2 separate regions of the Homo sapiens genome follow, and region 2 is linked to region 1. A link means that fine-mapping ties the variant in region 1 to the expression of a gene that starts in the linked region. Tissue or cell type: tibial artery. Region 1 holds a variant in brackets; the other region holds the start of a gene. All regions are shown on one strand. Distances are from middle to middle.

Region 1 (2,852 bases):
CCATCAGGTAGAAACTATCACTGCCCACTCTGCAGCTGAGGAGATTAAGACCCAGAGAGATTAAGCAGTTCAACCATGATTAAACAGCTAGTTGTGGGTGGAGCTGGAAATTCGATTTAGGTCTTCTGCCTCCAAAGCCAGCACACTACCCACTATATTATAGCTCCTCAGCAGTGATTTGTATATAATAAGTTGGCTCAGTGGTTCTCCACATGGGGTGAATTTGTCCCCTGGGGGTTTGGCAATGGCTGTAGATACTTTTGCTTGTTATAACTGGGTGAAGTGTGCTGCTGGCATTCAGTGGGTGGAGGCCAAGGATACTTCTAAACATCTTACAATGCTCAGGACAGCCCCCAACAACAAAGATTAATCTAGCCCAAATAGTGCTGAGACTGATAAATCCTTGAGTAGCTCAAGGAATTTATTGATGACGTAACACCATTTAAAAAATATTTTAAAAATACAGAAGTTTCCCCTTTTTCACAGGGGATATGTTCCAAGACCCCCAGTGGATGTCTGAAACCACGGATAGTATTGAACCCTAAATATACTATGTTTATTCATATACATACATACCTATGATAAATGTTAACTTATAAATTAGGCATAGTAAAAGATTAACAACAATAACTAATAATAAAATAGAATAATTATAACAATATACTGTAGTAAAACTTATGTGAATGTGATCTCTCTTTTTCTCTCTCAAAATATCTTATTTTACTATACCAAAGGTAATTGAAACTGTGGAAAGTAAAACCACAGATAAGGGGGTAATACTGTACTTCAAAACACATATAAACATGGAGGCTATATTTAATGATCGTGTAACTCCTAGCCATCATTAGGGAAATCAGTCGTCATGCAACTATATAATTAGTATAGTTCCAGGTAGCTCAGCTATTACTGTAGGGAAAACTTGTTCAGTCAGTACAATTGCAAAAGTGGAATCAAGAAGATATGAAGTGACTCAACCTTTAATCATTTTGTGGAAGCTATGAAAAGGAAATAGGCCAGGCCCGGTGGCTCAGGCCTGCAATCCCAGCACTTTGGGAGGCCGAGGTGGGTGGATCACCTGAGGTCAGGAGTTTGAGACCAGCCTGGCCAACATGGCGAAACCCCATCTCTACTAAAAATACACAAAATTAGCTGGGTGTGGTGGCGGGCACCTGTAATCCCAGCTACTAGGGAGGCTGAGGCAGGAGAGCTGCTTAAACCCAAGGGGCAGGGGTTGCAGTGAGCCAAGATCGCACCACTTCACTGCAACCTGGCGAGACTAGACTCCTTCTCAAAAAAGGAAATAGACCAGTAAAGTTACAATGTGA[T/C]TCAGAAAACAAAGCTACTGGAGCTATAATTCCAGGCTCAGTGAGAATTTTATAAAAATTAGGTGTGAAGCCAGGTGTGGTGGCTTACACCTGTAGTCCCAGCACTTTGGGAGGCCGAGGCTGGCAGATAGCTTGAGCCCAGGAGTTCGAGACCAGCCTGGGAAACATGGCGAAATCCTGCCTCTACAAAAAATACAAAAATTAGCCATGCGTGGTGGCATGTGCCCATAGTCCCAACTACTTGTGAGGCTAAGGTGGTAGGATCACTTGAGCCCAGAGGGTTGAGGCTGCAGTGAGCTGAGATCATGCCACTGCACTCCAGCCTGGGTAACAGAGTGAGACCCTGTGTTAAAAAAATATATTGTATGAGAAACAAAGGTTTATTATAATATTGATAAAACTTATCCAAATCGTTATGACTTTTAATATTTCTTAGTATTTCTTTAATATTTCTTAATACTTACCTTAAGGTAGACTCCAAAATAGTTACATGAATGCCTCAAAGCAGGGCAGGAATTCTTACTTTTTGCTTCATAAGAAAAAACTTACAAAGTCTATTCTTTCCTTTGTCTGAAGGTAGATATTGAGATAGGTACCAAATTGTCTACTTTATTTCTCTTCATTATTTAATCCCCGATCTGTCTTTTCTTCCCATTCCCCTCTTCAAATACCCAGTAATCTTCCTATAGCCTGTTACTTGCATCAATTTGATATATGGAAGAAGTGGGCATGAGTCTACAGAACAAAAAGTTTATCATACTTTCAATGTGCTCTCCAAAGGGCCCGAAACAAAGGTGAACAGCATTCAGATGAGCTTCCTTCAATTGTATCATCAATCCTCCATCAACCCTTTCACTATGAACTAAATCTGCAAACATTTCCAGCATTCCAACTTTTGCCTGCTTGTAAATAACACACTCAGCTAAACCTCCTCCAACTGTATCACCCATATATCCTTGATATATAAACCTTTGTTCTAAACAAATTCCCCATACAATTCCAGCATCGTAAGAACATCCAGTATCTTGGCTTCAACATCCCAAGCCTTAATCAGTGCAAAATCCACCTCCAATACTGACTGCCTGAAAATCAAAACAAAATGGAACAAGAACACTGACTTTATATCTTATGACAATGAACATGATAATTTATGTTTACATATCTGCCTCCCACATCGGACCATGAGCTCCTTAAGAGATAGGCCTATTTCTTATTTTAACAATATTTACAACAACAACAACAGTAACAACAGCTATATTTATAGAGAACTCATTTTGTGCCATTTGCTGTTCTAAATTCTTTATGTGAATTATCTTCTCTCATTCTCTTAACCATCCAATGAGATAGATAGTGTCATTGATCCTTTTTATTGAGGCACAGAGAAATTAGATAGTTGTTAAGGGCCACACAGCTTGTAGGTAGTGGAAATGGGATGCAGACTCAGGAGGCCTGATTCCAAAATCCTTGTTCTTGAAAAGTGTTCAATGCTACTGCCTCCATGTAAATCAGATTCACAAATTGTGCATC
Region 2 (2,673 bases), 57 kb after region 1:
CCTTGTTGATGCATCTCTCAAGGTTGATTTTGAGTTAGAGGTTTGCTCTGTCCATACAGACTTGTTTTTCTCCCTGCTTAGAACCAGCATGAAAAGAACGCAAGAAGAAACTTTGGTCTTATTCAGATCACATTTTAAAAACCTGAGCTAGCATGATAAGAGCAGTTAAAACATATTCTTTCTAAAGGCACAGGGTCCCAGACACCAAAATAACCATCCATTCCCTAACCAACTGATGTCTCTCTGCTGTACGTGGTAAATTAAAACTACATGTTTTACAACGTAAAATAAAGGGTGCCCCGAATAACAACTAGGTTCTTTAAAGTTAGTGTTTTGGGGGAAGCATGGGGGCTTCTTTGTAGCACTCCTTTGAAAACTATTTCCGAGAAAGCTCCAATACAAACACCTTTTTCTTCCTAAGGAATCAACCTTAGGGAATCAACCTTAAGGAATCAATCTGCTGGGCTAAATCTTCAACACCTTCCCTTTTCATCACCTTTGAGGCAGATAACCAAAATTTCTTTAAACTGCTTATTTCACAACGGGATGACAAAGGAGTGTGTGTGTGTGTGAATGCGTGTGTGTGCGTGCCCGTGTATGCCCGCGTGTACAAAGGTGTGTGAGAATGCGTGTATGTACGTGCCCGTGTGCGCCCGCGTGTGCAGTTTACCTTTTTACAAAATCCAGCATTTAAAATAGATTTTTAAATTCCCCTTTAACAAATGATTGAAAATGGTGTAATCATTTTATCTTTTGTTGTTTTTTTTTTTTAGTTCAGTAACAGCCCAGAACTGTAGTTTTGAGCCATGTCATCAAATCTAAACACGACTAGGGAAGTGGAGCGGGGAGAAACAGGAGAGAGAAACAGAAAGGAAAAGCGGGTGGGCGGTGAAGCAGAAGGCTGGGACAGTCAGAGGGATTCGCCGTCTCACTCTTACCAATTCCTCCCTCGGCACACATCACAGCATGTTGGTCACGAGTCGCAAGGTACAAGAAAAGAGCTAAGCACAAATTCGAAGAGTGAAAGCGGGTTGTGCTTCCACGCCAGCCATTTGCCTTCCGGGAAAAAAAAAAAATCACTTAGACATCTCCCAAACTCAGCTGCGGGAGCCAGCGCCGGAGCCTGTGCTGAGCTCGCAACCTACTTCTCCCTCCGCTCCTCCTCCCGTCTCCGCCAGGCTGCAGAGCAGCCCGAGCTGCAGTGCACCGCCAATCGCCCACCGCCCCGCCCTCCGTGACGTAGCAGCGGCAGGGCCTGGCAACTGACCGGCTCCCAGCTCCAGCTGTTTGACCGAGCTGCCCTTCTGCCCAGCGCAGATGCCCCAGTGACCCAGAGCCCTTACAATCTCACCTCTGACTTTCACCTCCCAAGTACAGGTTGCTCGCGGTTGACGGTTTGGTTCATTGTTTTGCTGCAATTCTAACAATTCACTGTTTTAGCTAAACGTGGAACACTGGACAATTATTTTTTGGAGGGTAAAAGAGATCAAATCTAAAAATGTCGCGCCACTGCATTCCAGCCTGGGCGACAGAGTGAGACCCTACCACAAAATAAATAAATAATATGTAATGTTACTGTTTTTATGACTAGAAAAGAAATGAGGAAAAATATTACAATTCTGATTTGGTCGTTTTCCTCACACCTTGCCCTTCCGTTCCCTTACTCAGGATAATGTGGCTTTGTCCATACACCTGCCAAGGTCCGTTTGCTTAAAATTCACAACTTTTTTTAAAACTTCTAAATAAGTTTCAACAACCTGTCTGGTTTCTCAAAATGTCTAATTTGGAAAGAGGAAAAGCCATTTAGTGAAGGCCGAACCAATAACTCAGAACAAAACCTAATAATCTTGGCTGCCTGTTTTATCCCATTGAAACAAATATAAAAAGTGGGGCCAAACTCTCCACAGCTCTCCTATATTGTGCCTCTCTCTTCCATTCTCTCAAGTGTTTCTCAGATGTGCAACAAGAGTGAAGAAAACTAAATGAGCATGCAAATGTTTGACTATTAGTAAAGAGCTCACCAGTACAGACACAGGGAGCTGGTTGGTCGGCTTGAAAATTCTCTCAGACCAAGAGAAGCCAAACAAGTTTCTGCACCCACTGAGAACGTGCTTCTGCCAGACGAGGAGAAACAAGTTCTGGGTGTGGCTTCCTATGATGCTCCATTAGGGAAGCCTCCATCTGCAGGTAAGGACAAATCTCTAGAACTTAGTCAAACTTAATCCCCAGAATTAACCCAGCCTAGTAGAATACACTGTCATTTACATGGCCTCTGAAATTCCTGGCCCTAGTAGCACTTTTTGCAGTCATATGACTGTCTCTAACATCCTTTAAGATGAAACACATTTCCTATCTGAGAGTCAACCTTATAGAGGAGACTTAAAACTGTAGCTGGGCCCCCCTGAGCTCTCCCAATCAAACACTGGTGTTGTTACCTCAGCAGAGGGCCTTCCTGGGAACGTACATACCAGGACAATTCAGGCATGTAGCCTGTTTGGATTGCTTAAATCAGTGGTTCTAACTAGCTACACATCAGAGTGAACCGGGGAGCTTGATGCCAAGGCCCCACCCAGGCCAATTAAACCAGAATCTCTGGGGGTGGCGCTATGGCAATGTCTTTTTTTCAAGCTCCTCTAGAAATTCTAATGTGCACAAGGGTTGAGAATCACTGAC

Alleles and levels. Positions count from the first base shown, and alleles are read on the strand shown. Sizes are in standard deviations (SD) of each study's normalised expression.
With allele T in place of C in region 1, the expression in tibial artery of the gene that starts at base 1,183 in region 2 is lower (small effect, 0.25 SD a copy in GTEx).

What was found. PIP is the estimated chance that this variant, and not a neighbour inherited with it, causes the effect.
Region 2: ATP10D starts here. The variant in region 1 is fine-mapped to the expression of ATP10D in tibial artery (GTEx, PIP above 0.99).

Annotation. Positions count from the first base shown.
Region 1 is chr4:47,540,938-47,543,789 of GRCh38, reverse strand. All of the region lies in intron 9 of ATP10D (ATPase phospholipid transporting 10D (putative)), which reads right to left. Among named protein-coding and RNA genes, the nearest start is that of ATP10D, 57 kb to the right of the region's middle. The variant T/C (reference allele first, on the strand shown) is at 1,326.
Region 2 is chr4:47,483,785-47,486,457 of GRCh38, reverse strand. It overlaps ATP10D (ATPase phospholipid transporting 10D (putative)), which reads right to left and starts at 1,183. Exons shown (of 23, transcript NM_020453.4): 1 at 939-1,183. RefSeq lists enhancers at 1,011-1,080, 1,052-1,346.